Linked DNA regions of Homo sapiens: region 2 is linked to region 1. The links come from fine-mapping of genetic effects on gene expression. A gene starts in region 1. The other region holds a variant in brackets. All regions are shown on one strand. Distances are between the middles of the regions.

Evidence for each region.
Region 2: its variant is fine-mapped to the expression of EIF4E in pancreas (GTEx, PIP 0.99).

The regions. Positions count from the first base shown.
Region 1 is chr4:98,924,537-98,934,621 of GRCh38, reverse strand. EIF4E (eukaryotic translation initiation factor 4E) reads left to right here and starts at 5,489. Exons shown (of 7, transcript NM_001968.5): 1 at 5,489-5,527. The coding sequence starts at 5,510. RefSeq lists a silencer at 1,941-1,990 and an enhancer at 3,896-5,095.
Region 2 is chr4:98,892,185-98,902,269 of GRCh38, reverse strand. It overlaps EIF4E (eukaryotic translation initiation factor 4E), which reads left to right. Exons shown (of 7, transcript NM_001968.5): 2 at 288-394. Among named protein-coding and RNA genes, the nearest start is that of EIF4E, 32 kb to the left of the region's middle. RefSeq lists a silencer at 9,880-10,085. The variant G/A (reference allele first, on the strand shown) is at 5,298.

The DNA of each region.
Region 1 (10,085 bases):
TAGAACATTATAATAATATAAGACTGGAAATTACCTGAATATGTAACCATTTGGAACTGATTAAGGGAACTGTGATATATCCACTCAGCAGAATATTCTGAAGCCACTAATGTTACCGATGATGTGATGCACCAGGAAGAATACAATATTATTTTTGTAGTATTTCTGTCAAAATGAGTGAAGAAACTGGCAAAATACGAATATTGATTTTATGGTTTTTATTTTAGATAAAACTACTATTATATTTCATGATTTCATTATTTGTATTACGGTGCTGTAAGAAAACGTCTTTATTCATAGGAGGAACATGCTGAAGTATTTAGAGGTAAAGGATCATCATGCCTGCAACTTCCTCTCAAATGGTTCAGAAGTAATGAGATTAAGAGAGGCAATGCAACAAATTAATAATTGGTGAATTTAGAAGGGCTTAGAAGAAGAGTTACTATTACAAGTATTCTGTAAGTTTAAAATTTTTCCAAAAAAAAAAAGTTTAAAAACTGTTATCCCATCTATAGGCAATGTCCAAAATGTTTGCAATAAGATGTCATGTGGAAAAAAATGTAGAATTCAAAATTGTTTGTGCAGGCTGGGGGTGACTCATACATATAATCTCAGAGTTTTAGGAGGCCAAAGCCAGAGGATCACTTGAGCCCAGGAGTTCGAGACTAGCCTGGGCAACATAACAAGATCTTTTCTCTACAAAAAATAAAAAAATGAGCTGGGCATGGTGGCACATGTTTGTAGTCTTAGCCATCGTTCAGGAGGCTGAGGTGGGAGGATCGCTTGAGCCCCAGAGTTAGAGGCTGCAGTAAGCCAGGATTGTGCCACTGCACTCCAGCCTAGTAGTATAGGAATACCCTGTCTCTAAACAAACAAACAAAAACTCTTTGCACCCTATAATTGTAAAAGCATAAAATGTTGGCACACGGATATATTAGAATAGCAGAAGAGGTTTCCCTTAAAAAATTTTTTTCTTTTTCTTTTTCTTGATTTTCTTTTAAAAATCAAGGTGCCTTTTTAGCCAGTAGGTAGTGCCTCAGTCTCATAAAAATCACCAAGGAGAGAGTAAACAAAAAACTAACTAGAATAATAAAATAATTTTTTAAATTCCAATTCTGCTCCAATCTTTTAATATTCAAAATTCCTTGGTCATGTTTGCGTACATCCCATGTTTTTAAGCAATGTCCTGAGTAGGTAATGGGAATTGGTGTCTCTCAAACTGTAAAATTAAAATAAGGGTTCACAGTGGCTCAGGCCTGTAATCCCAGCACTTTGGCAGGCCGAGGCGGGCAGATCACGAAGTCAGGAGTTCGAGACCAGGCTGGCCATCTCTACTAAAAATACAAAAGTTAGCCAGGTGTGGTGGCACGCACCTGTAGTCCCAGCTATTTGGGAGGCTGAGGCAGGAGGATCGCTTGAACCCAGGAAGCAGAGGTTGCAGTGAGCCAAGATCTGGGCAACAGAGTGAGACTGCATCTCGGGAAAAAAAAATTACATTTGAGTTTTCCCCAAATATTTGATAGCAATCTATCTACAAATCATCAATGAGCTAATATTTTAGTAGTAGGGTCAATCAACAACTAATTAAATAATGTTTAACAGCAAGTTTAGAGTTAGGGTTATGAAGTGGCCTAAAGAAAACCAAAGCAGAGTGAGGGGATAAAGAGTAATGGAAACAGTAATTTAGATAGGGTGGTCAAGGAAGCCTTCCTTCAGGAGATCACATTGGAACAGAGGCCTGGATGAAATGAGGGAAGGAAGTATATGATTCGCTCATTCATTATGTGAATGTGTGCTGGTTATGGTGCTTGTTAACTGCATCCTCTTGGTTCTTAGTCACACCTCTTTATATGGGTACTGAACTATTTATATTTCTATGACTTAGTACGCCAACCAGATTTTACAGTCGGGGAAGGAAGTGCCTGTACTTCCTGTGTCCTTTAAATATCCTCCACTGGTTACATAGTTCCCATTACTAACTTAGTACTTGTTGGATGGTTTCTGGTCAGTTCTGTAAATGAACTTGGAATTACAAGTCCTTTGAAGAGCAATAAAGAATAATAGAGAATAAATAGAGAAATAAAACATAAAATTTCAGCTCTATATATTTAGGATTGGCAAAAACAAAACAAAACAACCACATACACACATACATAAAAACCTAATCGTTAAATCTTTGAAATGGTAGAATCTCAAATAGGCAAAGACACATTAATGGTCATAAAACACACACAACAAAGTATATACAAAAATGGAGATTTTCCTGAAACTCTGTGCTTGAAAATTATAAAGAAAAATTGTTGAAAACTATGTAAAAAATGGAAAGAAACTAAACCATAAAGAATAGAGCATCCATAAGTATTGTAAAAGTATGAGTCTTGGTTGACAAGAGGGAGTTTTTTTTTTTTTTTTTTTTTTGAGACTGAGGGAGTGCAGTGGCGCGATGTCCGCTCACTGCAAGCTCCACCTCCTGGGTTCACTCCTTTCTCCTGCCTCAGCCTGCCGCGTAGCTGGGACTACAGGCGCCTGCCACCATGCCCAGCTAATTTTTGTATTTTTAGTAGAGACGGGGTTTCACCGTGTTAGCCAGGATGGTCTCGATCTCCTGACCTCGTGATCCGCCCGTCTTGGCCTCCCAAAGTGCTGGGATTACAGGCATGAGCCACCGTGCCCGGCCCGAGTTTTTTGATTAACAGAAAATTTAATAAAAATGGAAACTGTTGTTTAAAAAAAGTTTTAAGAACATCACTGGCTTTCAGTCCTATAGGTATTTTCTTGCCAATCTCATTGATTTTTTGCTGTTATATAACAGCTTCATGAAAATAGGACATCTGGCCAGGAATGGTGGCTCATGCCTGCAATCTCAGCACTTTGGGAGGCCCAGGTAGGGGGACCGCTTGAGCCCAGGAGTTTGAGACCAGCCTGGGGAACATAGCTAGACGCTCCTGTCTCTGCAAAATATAAAAAAATTAGCTAGGCATGGTGGCCCATGCCTGTAGTCCTAGCTACTTGGGAAGCTAAGGTGGGAGGACCCCTTGAACCCAGAAGGTCAAGGCTGCAGTGAGCCATAATCATGCCACTGCACTCCAGCCTGGGTAACAGAGCAACACCCTGAAAAGACAAAAAGAAAGGAAGGAAGGAAGGAAGGAAGGAAGGAAGGAAGGAAGAGAGAGAGAGAGAGAGAATGGGAGGGGAGGGGAGGGAGGGGAGGGGAGGACAGGGGAGGGGAGGGGAAGAGAAGGGAAGGGAAGGGAGGGGAAGGGTAGGGAAGGGAGAGGAAGGGTGGGGAAGGGTGGGGAAGGGGAAAATAGGACATCTATGCTGTCTTTTTCTCTTCAAAGAAGGTAACCTGACACCACTTCTAACCAGCAGAAAATAACAACGCGGTCAACAGAATTATTTTGGATAGTCTAAGTAACAGTAGATAGTCTCTGTAAGTAGAAATCCACTTATCCGTTTATTATCATTTTTTTTTTTTTTTTGGAAATGGAGTCTCACTGTGTCGCCCAGACTGGAGTGCAGTGGCGGGATCTTGGCTCACTGCAACCTCCACCTCCCAGGTTCAAGTGATTCTCCTGCCTCAGCCTCCTGAGTAGCTGAGACTACAGGCAGGTGCCACTATGCCTGGCTAATTTTTGTATTTTTAGTAGAGACAGGGTTTCACCATGTTGGTCAGGCTGGTCTCGAACTCCTGACCTCAGGTGATCCGCCCGCCTTGGCCTCCCAAAGGGCTGTGATTACAGGCGTGGGCCACTGCGCCTGGCCTGTTAATTCTATCTACTTTAAAACCTAGTAGAGCTAAGCCCACTAGACAAAAGCTTTCATTAATCACTTCTGATATTCAGGTAAACCAAAACATATGAACAGGCAATGGCTTTGAGTTCTCATACAGCCTCAATTATGTGTTAGTCAACTCAAGCATCCATTATGTACTCAATAATAGGTATGACACAGCTCTGGACCTCATTAACACTATAAGCAGACAGGCACAGGCAGCCTGCATACACTCCTTTTCCTGGTGTCAACATTATTTAAAAGCATGGGAAATAGTAATGAGACAGTGTCTTCTTCATTAGAACCTTAGGAGTCTACTAGATTTCTTCATCTCTATTTGTTGTTATTAGTAGCCAAACTGTGCAAAAAACACGGTCTTGAGAAATGACAGCACAGTATCTTAGAGGGAAAGGAAATGTAGGATGCCAGTGTGGGGACAAATTTCTGATTGCCAGTGATTGTTGTGAGCATAACAATAATTTCATGAACATTAAAGCCTCTATTGAGGGCAGCTGCAGTTGTAAAGGAAAAAAAATGGTCCTGAACATTTAAAACTACACTGGTGTACATCATAATCAAACAAAGTAAACAGAAAAAAATTTAAACTTTGCTAAAAAAAAAAAGCAGAAGCACTTGATCTTTAGGAAGGCACGCAGTTGCTTATTATGAATCATTTCTAGAGTCCGATGCATTTTCAAAGCCGGTTACAGTCATTACGAAGCACACCCTTGTGAGGTAAGTGTATCATCACCTTTGGTTCATAAATAAAAAAGCTGAGACGCCGAGCGATTAAGTCACTCGCCTAAGGAGAATGAGTCAACGTCAAGAGTCATAGTTGACCCGGCCTAAAGACTCCAGACCATCAGTCCAGGGCTTAGTCAGCGGGGCCCGGAGTGGCTTCCCTGGCTGGCATCTGGACTTAGGCTATTTCCGTGCACGTAAAAGCGGAATATTGGAACGGTTGCACAGAACTTCCAAATAATTTTTACCGCCACGCAAGATTTAGCCCTGAGGTCTTAATCTCAGGATTTGGGACAGTAAAAGCTGTCGTCCCTCCCCCTCGTCCAGCCGGTGGCAAGCGGGTACTGCGGGCGGTTCCGTCCGTCCCCTTTCGCAGAAATGGCAACGAATGACCACCAGCATTAGCTGAGCCAGGGGACGTGGGAGGGTTGATTGCCTAAACGACTCTGCATCGCCGCCTCTTTTTGAAACTAAGAGAAAATGGTGGGAGATCAAAAGAAAACTAAATAAACACACAGGCAACTTGTCCTGGGACCTCAACTAAGCAAATGAAGCCTTATTGTGTGTGCTGAGCCTGCAGTTCCCAACCTTCCGGGGAAGATGGGAGGACAGGGCGACAAAGGGCACAGTAGGCTTGCCTGGCAGTAAGTGTGACCGCAGCTATCCAGGCGGAAGAGCAGAGGACTGAAACCACCCTCCAGCAAGCGAGTGTCCGCCGCGTTGAGAACCGCGCACCCTACCCATCGGCCACGTGACCAGTCCTTTTTAAAAAAAATTTCTTTACCTTAAAAAAAAAAAAAAAAAAAAGGTGGGGGAGAGACTCCACTTCCCAGAAGCCTCTCGTTACTCACGCAGCCGCAGTCTTGCGCAGGTGCCGCCAGGGCCAAACGGACATATCCGTCACGTGGCCAGAAGCTGGCCAATCCGGTTTGAATCTCATTTTTTTCCTCTTACCCCCCCTTCTGGAGCGGTTGTGCGATCAGATCGATCTAAGATGGCGACTGTCGAACCGGTGAGTATTGCCTTTGGCCCCCACCCCCACGGGTCCCCGCGCTCCGTCTTCCTTCTGACTGGGGGACTCCGCGGGACGGCGTTCCCGGCGCGCACTGTACCCCTTGCCGCCCCTTCCCCTTCATGTTGGACCTGACCTCCCGCGGACAAGTGGGGACGTCCCGGAGGATGGCCGAGGCGGCGTGTAGCGCACACTTTCTGGTGGGGGCCCGAGAACTGGGGGAGCGGTGTGGGGGAGGGGCGGCGTGGCGCCTCCTGCGGAACCGCGAGGTGTCTACAGGGTGGAGGGTAGCTGGGGTTCTGGGCTGGGTATGCGAGGATGGTGTCTTCATGATAGGAAGGCGCAGGGCCGGCTCCCAGCGAGTACTGGGATCCGCAGGCAGGGTGGGCGGCGAGCCGGCCTGGAGTGAGATGGAGGAGGGAGCCCTGGAGCAGCCTTTCCCTCCCTGCAGAACCCCAGCTCCGGGGCTCGGGTGCGGGGCGCGCGCACGTCTTCCTTAGACCGGTGGACTGGGGAGCTGGTGGGCGAGTGTTGCCGGAGGGTGGGTTAGGCGGGAGTGGTGCCGCGGCACGCGCGGAGGAGCTTCGACCTCGCTTAGGGGAGTTGAGAGGGGCGAGCGTCTGTTAATCCAGCGCGCCGGAGAGTTGCCGGTGTTTGCGCCAGGGGAAGCGAGAAAGGTCTGGGGTGGGAAGGAACACTCGTGTGTCACGGTGAAGCTCTCCAAGTAGAATGAGGGATGGTGGTGGTGAGAAGGGGTATCACATTGTCCTCGCCCCTCCATGCTTGGGACTGGGCTGTCATGGAGGAGGGAAGGGGGAGGAGCGAGGCCTACAGATCGCTGTAGCCGGTCGGCTTGCCGGCCGGACCTGCTGCATTTCACACGCGCCCGTCTTCCATTCATTCATCCTTTCCGCGTAGTGCGCACGCCTCAGAGAATGCGAATGGGTCTCAATCCCTCTGTTCTTCCGAGTCTTTATCTCCTGGAAGATTTCTGAGACGCAGTTTATTGGAAATAGAAACTTTTAAATTTACTTTTCCATTTGACTTTTTTTTTCTCTTTATCTATGCTACAGACTTTCATTTCAATTTAGGCACCATTTTAAACTTAACTGAAGCAAGCTGGTCCCAGGGTAGGTTTGTAGTTAATCTTTAAGCAGAGGGTATATTTTTCATAATTTGGGTTTGCCAGGACTGGCTCACTGAAACTTCTGGGCCCTGTTGCCTTTTTAGAAACGACACAGCTAAGTGAAGATATCTTGTGTGCATAATGGGGTTTATTAGCAATCAGAAAACCTTTCACACTCTGGAACCAGCTCTAGACCTTGGTTGCCAGATACTTTTGTGTATCTTTTCATGGTAGCTTGTGGTTTTGCTAATGGTTTACCAGTTTGCTTTGACTTTTAAAGACTTTTTTTTTTTTTTTTTTTTTTTTTTTTTTTTGAGATGGAGTCTTGCTTTGTCGCCCAGGCTGGAGTGCAGTGGCGTGATCTCGGCTCACTGCAACCTCCGCCTCCGGGTTCAAGCGATTCTCCTGCTTCAGCCTCTTGAGTAGCTGGGATTACAGGTGCGCACAACCGTGCCTGGCTAATTTTTGTATTTTTAGTAGAGACGGGGTTCCACCATGTTGGCCAGGCTGGTCTGAAACTCCTGACCTCAAGTGATCCTCCCGCCTCAGCCTCCCAAAGTGCTGGGATTACAGGCGTGAGCCACAGCACCCGGCACTTTTAAAGACTTTTATAAAACTATTTCAAAAACTCTTATAGACTACACAAAGGCTTATTTTTCATTGCGTTGGTGTAAACTATCCTTACCTTGTCAAAATTCAAGGCAGCTTCTCTGCTTGCTTACTTGTTTTTTTATTGGCACCAGTTTTCATTTATGTTCCTGGGAATTAAATTGACTGAAAAACTCATAAGTTGTTGCTACAGTTAACTGACTTTAGGACATTAATATTACATAACACTAATGAAGAATAAGTATGTAAAATATACATTTTAAACCCCTTGACAGGTTCTGATGTCCACTTTTGTCTAGATCTGTTCCTACCCCACTACACTAGTGTCAGTAAAAAGCATTACATCTGGTAATAGGGGCAAGGCTACGAGACTGTAAACTATAAAACAATAAGGAGTTCTGTGAGGTTTCTGTCACATTTAGGTCCCTTGAGTTTTGCAGAGTTTATGCAGTTTTGTTTCAGCAGCACAGAGCGGAACTGCAAAGTGATGAAGGACTATATTTTGAGTTAGTAAATATTAATAGCTCCTGATATATCCAGGGTGTTGTACCAAGTGTTCTTTAGGATACAAAGTTATACAAGATGTGAGTCTTGTTGAATGTAAACCCTTAAGGAACTTAATTCCTAGGGATGTGGTTAGTGATACAGTATTTGTTCTGGTACAGACTTTGGGAGATTTGGATGTTATGTTTAAATTTGGGGAGTAGGGGAACCTAAAAACAAAGTGTGTGAAGCTGGAAACTAAAGTATTTTGAGAATATATGTAAAATAGTATCGAAGTGTTTAGTTTTAGTGAGAAATGAATTTTTTTTTTTTCGATACTGACTTTCACTCTTGTTGCCCAGGCTGGAGTGCAATGGCGCGATCTTGGCTCACCGCAACCTCCGCCTCCTGGGTTCAATCGATTCTCCTGCCTCAGCCTTCCGAGTAGCTGGGATTACAGGCATGTGCCACCACGCCCGGCTAATTTTGTACTTTTAGTAGAGATGGGGTTTCTCCATGTTGGTCAGGCTGGTCTTCAACTCCCGACCTCAGGTGATCCGCCCGTCTTGGCCTCCCAAAGTGGTGGGATTACAGGCATGAGCCACCGCGCCTGGCCTGAAAATTTTTAGTACTTTTAATATACCCTTGTGCACAGGCTAGTTATGTGGAATTATTTTTGACAGTTTTAAATAGTTGGATTTTGTGTGTAGGGGTGCAGGATCTTGCTCTGTTGCTGGGGCTGGAGTGCAGTGGCGCGATCATAGCTCACTGCAGCCTCAAACTCCTGGGCTCAAGAGATGCTTCCATCTCAGCCTCTGGTGTAGCAAGCACTACAGGAGCAGGCCACCACGCCCGGATAATTTTTAAACTTTTTGTAGAGATGGAATCTCGCGATGGTTACCCAGGCTGGTCTCAAACTCCTGGACTCAAGTGGTCCTCCCACCTTGGCCTCTCAATATGTTGGGTTACAGGCGTGAGCCACCGAGCCTCGCCTGGATTTTTTTTTGAAGCAACTGATTAGAATTGGATTGTACTTGAGATACCCCTGCTGAAGGCTGCAAAAATCATGTTTTTTCTTACTTCAGCTAGTTTGTGAGCTTCCATAATGGTTTTCTGCTGTGCATAATCATAAACACTTAAAAAGAGCCATGGGCTTTTCCTGCTTATCCCATCATGCATAGGTATCTGGATGATTTTTGTCTATGGACATTACATAAAATATCATTTTCAGTTTGATATTATTGTGTGGTTTTCTCTTTGTATGAGTTGAGTTACATGAAGATGTGGCCCACAAATATTAAATTTGTTGAGAAGCTTGAAAGGGAAAATTAAGGGAAACATTTTACCTCTTAACGGATAATTTGGCAAAAATTTGAACGTTAGGGCAAACGGTACTCTGATGTTATTCTATCGGCATTTGAATTGTGGCTGGGTCAAAATTAGGTTTAATATTAGTCTGTGAAAATGGCAAGGCCATCTTACCTCCAGTAGGTCGTGTTTCTTTGTAGCTTTATCTTCATTCTACATCGTTCATTATTAGAATTAAAAAAATTTTTTTTTGACTTGTAGTTCCTTTTGAGGTAAGAGATTAATTTTGATTTCTTTAGCTTAACTGAAAGTGTATAATTTTACTTGTTTTTACATTGTAGCTCTTGAATTTTTTGAAACCACGCTAATTTCATAAGTGAATCAACTTGGACAATCAGCTAATTTAATGCTTCCTTTTTTATACTTTGGAAACATGCTCTGTACTACACAGCTTATTAATAAGAGTAAATAAGGTTTATATACATATTGACAAATATTTGTTGTACTATATAATTCATATTAATGAACAATTGAATGCCAACCAGACTATGCAAATTAGTGGACTTTTTGCTTAATGAAAGAACCCACTATATCAGAGTTCCTCGATAATCCACGTAAATTTGGCTCTGGGGTTCATATTCCAGATTTCTTCAATTAAAAGAAAAAAATATACTTGCTGAGTGCGGTGGCTCACGCCTGTAATCTCAGCACTTTGGGAGGCCGAGGCGGGTGGGGATCACTTGAGGTCAGGTGTTCGAGACCAGCCTGGCCAAAATGGTGAAACCCTGTCTCTACTAAAAATACAAAAATTAGCCAGGCCTGGTGGCAGGCGCCTGTAATCCCAGCTACTGGGGAGGCCAAGGCAGGAGAATCGCTTGAACCTGGAGGTGGAGGTTGCAGTGAACCGAGATGGTACCACTGTACTTCAGCCTGGGCGACAGAGCAAGACTCCATCAAAAAGAATAAAAAAAAAAACAGAAACAAATTTCACACTTCATTTTATAATCTGAGTTAATGAGCATGATTATTAGA
Region 2 (10,085 bases), 32 kb after region 1:
TGAAACCCCGTCTCTACTAAAAATACAAAAATTAGCCAGGCATGGTGGCACACATCTGTAATCCCAGCTACTTAGGAGGCTGAGGCAGGAGAACTGCTTGAACCTGGGAGGAGGAGGAGGTTGCAGTGAGCCAAGATCGCACGACTGCACTCCAGCCTGGGCAACAGAGAGAGACTCTGTCTCAAAAAAAAAAAATTATCAGCATATCAGTTCAGGTTTAGTTAGAATATTGCTGTCATAGATGTGTTAAGACATTTAAAATAATGTTTTATATTATTTTCCACTAGGAAACCACCCCTACTCCTAATCCCCCGACTACAGAAGAGGAGAAAACGGAATCTAATCAGGAGGTTGCTAACCCAGAACACTATATTAAACATCCCCTACAGAACAGGTAAGCTTTCTAACACCTAGGTTTTCTGAGTTAGGCCACAAGGTAAATTGTGAATGGGGCAAGTTTGAAGGGAAAGTTAGATTATGAGACTAGTTTTAGATATGCTAAGGTTGAGGGTTCTATTTTCACTTGGATGACCCATGACCAGCAGACAGTTTTATGTGTGAGTCTTGAGTTCAAAAGGAGCTATGTGAGAGATTAGTTTGAAAAGTATTGGTCATAATGGAAGCCACATTAGTAAATAAGTTCCCTTAAGGAGAAGTGAACTTGACTCAGGACAAAGACCGGGGATACTAGCATCATATAGGAGGCTTTTGTTGAAGAAGAATGCCTATGAAGGATGGACATACAAAGACAGTGGTGGTCGCCCAACGCGGTGGCTCACGCCTGTAAACCCAGCACTTCAGGAGGCGGAGGCGGAGGCGGAGGCGGGCGGATCACCTGAGGTCAGGAGTTTGAGACCAACCTGGCCAACATGGTGAAACCCCGTCTCTACTAAAAAATACAAAAATTAGCTGGGTATGGTGGCAGACGCCTGTAATCCCAGCTGCTCGGGAGGCTGAGGTGAGATAATTGCTTGAACCCAGGAGGTGCAGGTTGCAGTGAACTGAGATCGCGCCATTGCCTGCCAGCCTGGGCAACAAGAGCGAAACTCCATCTCAAAAAAAAAAAAAAGAGACAGTGGTGGTCATGGAAACCAAGAAGGTGGTTTATTCTAAGATAGGGTGGTTTACAGCACATGTGCTAAAAAGGTCAAATGAAGCAAGATGTCAAAATATCCATTGGATTGAACACTTTTAAAAAAGTCCGTGCTGACTTGGGAAAAAGTTTTTTAGTAAGGTTCCATAGAGTAGTTCCATAAAACATGGAAAAAGAGATTAGGGCAGTTTGAAGAGTGAATAGGAGATATACAGATGTATAGAGTAAGAACAGGTGACTTGAAGTTGGACTGAGAATGAGAAACGAGAGCCAGGGAATGTGGAGTTTGAAGGTTGGTTGGTTTGTAAGTGAGAGACTAGAAAAGGGGACAGATTAAAATTAGTTAAGTTTTCATAGTTAATAGTGTAACAGGAAATTGAGTATTAGTTCATTATATGGCTTTTCCCAACTCTTCCCACTCCTTTCCAGTAGGTTTGTTTTTATTTATTTTCTGGGGTATATGAGAATTAACTTGAGTTCACTGAATGCTGATGGTGGGAAGAAAATGGCAGTTCAGAAACATTGTAACAATCTAGAGGAAAGTAAATTGGAATTAACTTCTGAGGTTCTTGAAGTATTTCAGTTCATTTCTTGTCTTTTTTTGTTTTTATTTACTTTTTTTAGGGCAGACCATTCACTCTCTACTTAAAAGAGTCCACAAGTCTATTTATAATTGTTTCATTTATTAAAATTTTTTTATGATCTCAATTTTTTTAAATGTTTCCTTTATTCATCATGGAAGACCTACTGAAATAAATAGTTCAAATATGCTGTATGCAGTTTTCTCATAGGAGACCCTTTGGTTCAGTATATCCTCCAGTGAGGAACAAATCAGTTTTTTAGACAATGGAGATTCTCAGCTAGTGGGACATCAGAGGTCAAACAGTCTATAAAGGATAAAATCCTTCCTCAGGGAAGCAATGTACCACATGTATTAGGTTGAACAATTCGTTAGAGGCAGTCTTATATAGTTTAACCTAATAGTAGCACCAAAACCCACATTTTTTTTTCATTTTTTTCAGTGATATGAAACAAACTGTATATCTTCTAGCTGTCTGTGAACCTAGTTCTTGGTGTCACTTTTATTGTGGGGAGAAGTAAACAAGGCATATATCCCTCACAGCTTGAATGGAGTCTAAGAAGGGATTCTTAAGTGTCCTCATCAGTTTAAAAAAAAAAAAAAAGTTTAAATCTTAAAATGAAGTCTCTGGGGACTTCAGTTTCTCTATAAATTCTACTTTTTGTGTAAAATAGCAAGTATCATTTGGAAAAATACTATGTTTTATGGCTCCAATTTTGGCAGTTTTCTCATTATTTACTTCTTGCATTTTACTTTCTTCACTCCCCAGAGTAGTCAATGTTAAATTTGGTTTGTATTCCAGAAGTATTAAATGCACATATGTATACTTTTTAATACATACGTCTATACAGTTGACTTTTCTGTTTGTATGTGCATATTTTACCTCATTGTTTTAAACCACCGTCTTGCATTATATTGATATACCACCATATATTTTATTAGGTTTACATTAATGGCTGTATAGATTTTTCTTTTTACACACAGTGCTGTAATTTACATCCTTACATAATTGTGCACTTGTGTGAATATATAGGGTAAAATTTCAGATCTCCTAGAACAAAGATTACCCTTTAACAACCTTTGCGCAGATACTGCCACATTATTCTGTTTTATTGGCTTAGACTTAACAGTTTGAGAGTTCCTGGTTTCTATATCCTTGCTAACTCATGTGATTAGTCTTTTAAGTTGTTGCCAATCAGATTGGTCCCAGTCTGATTTGGGAAAACAATTTCAGTATTTTCAATTTGCATTTTAAAATTGAAGTTTCAAAATATTTTCATATTGATGATTTGTGGTTTTTATCTGAGGACAGATTATTCAGTTCTTCTATTTTTTTTCTTTTGGATTATCTTTTTTTTCCCCTACTTTCAAGCTAACAAGTTATGGAATATCTTTTCAAGTTTATTTCCAAGCATTTTATATTAGAGTGCTAACTCACCCAAGGCAGGGAAGTTGGAGGAGTATTAAGTCAGAAAGAAACAGGTTATCCATATCATTTGTCTTCTAACATTGTCTGTGGAATTGTATGGTTTTTTTTTTTTTAGAGGTCTTTAATTTTCATGTAGGCAAATACTGCTTTTCCTCAGTGGTTTCTGGGTTTCATATCAATTTTAGGAAAACTTTACCACACAGTTAAGCTTTTTTTTTTAAACTTTTTAATAGTTGCATAGTAGTCACTTGCGTGGATGTATGATATTTTATTTAAATCAGCAGTACTCAAGTATTTGGTCTCACAATTCCTTTACACTCTTAAAAATTATTGGTGACTCTACAGAGCTTTATGTGGATTTTTATCTATTGTTATTTACTATATTTTTACAGTAAATAATGCTAAGATGTTATTTTATTTTTCACATTTAAAAATGTATAATTTCACCTGAAAAACTTGAGAAATGTAAAATTATTCGTTTAGAAAATCTATCACATGTTAACCTAAGTGACATTTTGTAATGAAAATAATTATTTGAAATAAAAAATATATAATGGGAAGAACAGCATTTTTGCCATCTGTTTTTTTTTTTTTCGGAGTCTCGCCCTGTCGCCCAGGCTGGACCTCCACCTCCCGGGTTCAAGCGATTCTTCTGCCTCAGCCTCCCTAGTAGCCGGAACCACAGGTGTGTGCCACCATGCCCGGCTAATTTTTGTAGTTTCTAATAGAGACGGGGTTTCACCATGTTGGCCAGGCTGATCTTGAACTCCTGACCTCATGATCCACCCACCTCGGCCTCGCAAAGTGCTGGGATTACAGGCATGAGCCACCGCACCTGGCCGCATTTTTGCCGTCTTAGAAGTCAACTGGATTTTCATAGCTGTTTCTGCCTTCAGTCTATGGAGTTAAGATGTTTCATTGGAAGTATAAGAAGACAATACAGCCTCACACAGGTATTTGGTTGGAAAAGGGAGAATAGTTTTTAAAAGCCTTTAAAAATAATTGTTGATATGCTCCTTTGATACACTACTAGGTTTCTTTTTTCCCCCCCCTTTTTCGTAGGACACATGCTCAAAGAGATACTAGGTTTCTTAGAGGCTAGTTGCAATGTGGAATCTGAAACCATATCCAAGAATTTTTTTCTACTTTGTTACATTAAAATCCATTGGTCTGTCAGTGTCTTGCATCTGGAATGGATCTCTTACCTGTGTAAGATTTTTAACATCATACACTGCTTATTTGGAAAATAATGGTTCAGTGAGTTATGCAGATCTTCCAATGTTGACACATTTTCTTATATAGTATCAAACAATAATAATTCATTAATATTACCTCTAAACTCATTAAGCGTCTTTGATTTTTAGGAAGTTGTCAGGCTTACAGTGGCAGATGAAATCTTTCTAAAATTCTGATTTTTCTACTGAAAGCTTAAATTTTAAGCAACAATCTTAAGTTCAGACAATTGCCTAAATATTGTATTTTGTTTTACAGTAGTGGAAGTGGTTTTTGTGCAGATTATGAAAAATATGGAAATAGAATGAAATTTAATGAAACTGGTAATGTTTATTGCCTCATCAAAGTCATTCCTTTTTTTTTGTTCTCAAGACGGAGTTTCACTTTGTTGCCTAGGCTGGAGTGCAATGGTGCGATCTTGGCTCACTGCAACCTCCGCCTCCTGGGTTCATTCTCATGCGTCTGCCTCCCAAGTAGCTGGGATTGCAGGCACCTGCCACCATGCCCATCTAATTTTTGTATTTTTAGTAGAGACAGGGTTTCACCATGATGGCCAAGCTGGTCTTGAACTCCTGACCTCAGGTGATCCACCCACCTCAGCCTCCCAAAGTGCTAGAATTACAGGTGTGAGCCACCATGCCTGGCCCAAAGGCATTCTTATATGAAACTCACATTATTAGTACTGTGAGAGTTGGTAGTAATAAATGTACAGTGACTACTCGTATAGTTTTGTGTCACTGTCTTGGTTCTTGCTAAGGCACCAGCAGATTTAACTACTGTTGCTTTTGCACCGTTAGTGCAAATGTGAATACTGAAAAGCAAAGTGCCTTCTTAGCATTATTATGAAAATGGATCTTAGGGCCTCCTGCCTGTCTGCAGACCACATTTTGAGAACTGCTGATTTAAATAATTCCTTGTTGATAAGCACTTAAGATGTTTTCAAATTTTCCAAAACTAAAAAC[G/A]TCATTTGTTTGTTTTTGAAGACAGGGTCTCACTCTGTCACCCAGGCTGGGGTGGCGTGTAATCTCGGCTCACTGCAGCCTTCACCTTCCGTACCCAAGCCATCTTTCCACCCCAGCTGGGGCCCCACAGGCATGCACCACCACCATTTTAGTATTTTTTGTAGAGTTGGAGTTTTGCTATTTCCCAGGCTGGCCTTGAACTCGTAGACTCAAGCAATTCATCCACCTCGGCCTCGCAAAATACTGGGATTACAGGCATGAACCAACATGCCTGGCTTTTTTTTTTTTTTTTTTTTTTTTTTTTTGGAAGAGACATGGTCCCATTCTGTCGCCCAGACTGGGGAGCAGTGGCATGATAATAGCTCACTGCAGCCTCAAATTTCTGGGCTCAAATGACCTTCCCACATCAGCTTTCTAAGTAGCTAGGTCCACAGGTGTGCACCACCATGGCTAGCTAAGGTGTTTTTTTTTTTTTTTTTTTTTTTTGAGAGATGCGGGGTCTTGCTATGTTGCTCAGGCTGTTCTCAAACTCCTGACCTCAAGCAGTCCTTTCCCCTTCCCCTTCCATTCCCTGTCCCTGTCCCCATCCCTGTCCCATTCCTTGACAGGGTCTTGCTCTATCACTCACGTTGGCGTGCAGTGGCATGATCATAGCTCACTGCAACCTCGAACTCTTTGGCTCAAGCAATCCTCCTGCCTTGGCCTCCAGAGTGGCAGGGACTATAGACACATGCCATCATGCCTAGCTTATTTTATTTTATTTTATTTTATTTTATTGGAGATGGAGCCTCGCTCTGTCACCAGGCTGGAGTGCAGTGGTGCGATCTCGGCTCACTGCAACCTCCGCCTCCCAGGTTCAAGCGATTCTCCTGCCTCAGCCTCCTGAGTAGCTGGGACTACAGGCGCGTGCCACCACGCCTAGCCAATTTTTGTATTTTTAGTAGAGACGGGGTTTCACCGTGTTGGCCAGGATGGTCTCGATCTCTTGACCTCATGATCCACCCACCTTGGCCTCCCAAAGTGCTGGGATTACGGGCGTGAGCCACTGCGCCCAGCCCATGCCTGGCTAATTTTTTAAATGTCTAGTAGAGATGAGGTCTCACTTTGTTGTCCAGGCTAGTCTTGAGCTCCTGGGCTCAAGTGATCCTCCTGCCTCAGCCTCCTAAAATGCTGTTATTACTGGTATGATCCACCTTTCCTGGCCCCATAGATCTTTATGTGTTTAAATGGCTGGGTGCAGAGGTTTTTGTTTTGAAAAAAGATTGAATTATTTTTAAAAATCCAGCATGTATACTTGACCTCGTTGGTGGTTTTCTTGCCTTTTCTTCTTCTTTTTTATTGATAATGGGGTGGCAGTTGCTGACAAATTATCAAGTACATGTTGAAATGCATCTCATTTTTCTGTCTAGGTGAAGTTACCAAGCATTAATTATAGGATTATGAAATATATATTCAATTTGGAAGGCTCTTCAGACAACATTCGTGTTGATGAGAAAATGAAATTTCCCTTTGACTGCCCTTTGGTATTGTAATTCAGAGAATATTCAGTTTAATTCTTCTAAAGGAGAATCATCTTGGGATAATAACATTTAAGTGTAACTTTAATGTTCCACGAGTTTATCTTCAAGGCATTAGAGAAAATATTATACAGGCGTACCTCATTTTACTGTGCTTCACAAATCATGCCTTTTCTATAAATTGAAGGTTTGTGGAAATCCTGTGTCAAGCAGTTCTGTTGATGCCATGTTTCCAATGGCATGTGCTCACTTGGTGTCTCTGTGTCACATTTCGGTAATTCTCACGATATTTCAAACTTTTATTGTATCTGTTATGATCTGTGATCAGTGATCTTTGATGTTGCTATTATAATTGTTTTGGGGTGCCATGAACATTGGCGATATAAGATGGCAAACTTAATTGATAAATGTTGTATGTGTTCTGACTGCTCCACTGACTGGCCATTCCCATCTTCTTGTCCTTGGGCCTGCCTATTCCCTGAGACACAACAATGTTGAAATTAAGCCAATTAATAGCCCTACAGTGGCCTCTACATGTTATAGTGAAAGGAAGAGTTGCATGTCTCTCACTTTAAATCAAAAGCTTGAAATGATTACGCTTACGAGGAAGACATGTCAAAAGCCAACACAGGCCAAAAGCTAGGTCTGTTGTACCAAATAAGTTAGCCAGGTTGTGAAAGCAAAGGAAAAATTCTTGAAGGAGATCGAAAGTCCTCCTCCAGCAAACACATGAATGATAAGAAAACAAAACAGCCTTATTGCTGATATAGAGTAAGTTCAAGTGGTCTGGGTAGTAAATAAAACCAGCTACAACATTCCCTTATGACAAAGCCTAATCCATAGCAAGGCCCTAACTCTGTTCAGTGTTATGAAGGCTGAGAGAGGTGGGGATGCTGCAGAATAAAAGTTGAAAGCTGGCAGAGGTCAGTTATAAGGTATAAGGAAAGTCACCCCCATAAAAGTACAAGGTGAAGCAGCAAGGGCTGATATAGAAATTGCAGCAAAATCTCCAGATCTAGCTGAGGTAATTGATGAAGGAAGTTTACACTAAAAACAGATTTTCAGTGTAAACGAAACAGCCTTCTACTGGAAGAAGATGCCATCTTCTAGGACTTTGCTAGTTAGAGAGAAGTCATTGCCTAGCTTCAAAGCTACAAAGGACAGGCTGACTCTTGTTAGGGGATCTTGCAGCCAATGACTTTAAGTTGAAGCCAGTGCTCATTTGCCATTCCCAAAATCTTAAGAATCCTGAAGAATGATGCTAAATCCACTCTGCCCATGCTCTAGAAATGGAGCAACAAAGCCTGGATGACAGTGCATCGATTTATAGCATGGTTTACTGAATACTTTAAGCCTACTGTTGAAACCTACTGCCCAGAAAAAAAGTTTCCTTTCAAAATATCACTGCTCCTTGATGATGCGCCTAGTCGCCCAAGAGCTCTGACAGAGATGAATTGTTTTCATGCCTCTTAACACAGTGTACTTTCTGCAGCGTATGGAGCAGCAAAGAGGAATTTTGACTTTCAAGCCTTATTATTTATTAATAAGAACTATATTTCATGAGGCTAAATGCTGTAGATAGTGATTCCTTTGATGGATCTGGACAAAGTAAATGGAAAACCTTCCGAAAGGATTGAGCATTCTGGATGTCATTAAGAACATTCATGATTCATGGGAGGTCAGAATATCAACATGAACAAGAGTTAGGAAGAATTTGATTCCAACCCGTATTGATGACTTTGAAGCGTTCAAGACTTTAGTGGAAGAAGTAACTGCAGATGTGCAGAGAGCAAGAGACCAACAGTAAGAAATGGAGCCTGAAGATGTTACTGAATTGTTGCAGTCTCATGAGAAAACTTGAATGGATAAGGTGTTGCTTCTTATGGGTGAGCAGAAAAAAAGGTTTCTTGAGATGGAATCTATTCCTGGTGAAGATGCTGTGAACATTGTTGAAGTGACAACAAAGGATTTGAATATTACATAAACCAAATTGATAAAGCAACTGCAGGGTTTGGGAGGATTGACTCCAATTTTGAAAGAAATTCTACTATGTAAAATGCTTACAAACAGCATTGCATGCTACAGAGAAATCTTTTGTGAAATGAAGAGTCAATCAGTGTGACAGACTTCGTTGTTGTCTTAAGAAATTGCCACAGCCACCCCAATCTTCAGCAACCACTACTCTGATCAGTCAGCAGCAAACAAGGGAAGACCCTCCATCAGCAAGATTACCACTCTTTGTAGGCTCAGATGATCGTTAGCATTTTTAGCAATAGAATTTTTAATTAAGGTATGTACATTTTTTTTTAGATGTAATGCTATTTCAGACATAATGTAGACTACAGTATAGTGTAAACGTAACTTTTACATGCACCGGGAAACCAAAAAATTTGTGTGACTCTCCTTAAAGATAGTTCCTTTATTGTGATACTCACTTTATTATGATGATCTGGAACTGGACTCACAATATATCCAAGGTATGCCTCTATATATAATATGTTAGGTATATATAAGCTATTATGTATTATGTAGGAATAAAACTATTTTAAGAGAAGTATATACAGATATATTAAAACTGGTATACATTATTTCAGAACATATCTATGCAGCATTACTCAATCTTTATTATTTTCCCAGTTAGGTATTTGATTAAATATAGAATCACATTTAATAGTTTCCCCACTCCTGGCACTCTCATTTCTTCTTGGCTAATTTGTTCCTCTGAGAAATATCAGCCAACCTGTTTCTCGCCTTCTTTTTTTTTTTTTTTTTTTGAGACAGAGTTTCCCTCTGTTGCCCTGGCTGGAGTGCTGTGGCACAATCTCGGCTCACAGCAACCTCCACCACTTGGATTCAAGTGATTCTCGTGCTTCAGCTTCCCGAGTAGCTGTAATTACAGGCACATACCACCAGGCCTGGCTAAATTTTTTTGTATTTTTAGTAGAAACCAGGTTTCACCATGTTGGCCAGGCTGGTCTCGAACTCCTGACCTCACGTGATCCGCCCACCTCAGCCTCCCAAAGTGTTGAGATTACAGGCTTGAGCCACCGCGCCTGGCCCCTTGTCTTATTTTATAGTTTAAGTGTCTGCTGTGTTTTTTTTGTTTTTTTTTTTTGTTTGTTTTTTTGTTTTTTGAGATGGAATTTCGCTCTTGTTGCCCAGGCTGGAGTGCAGTGGCGTGATCTCAGCTCACCGTAGCCTCCTGCTTCAGCCTCCCAAGTAGCTGGGAATACAGGCATGCACCACCATGCCTGGCTAGTTTTGTATTTTT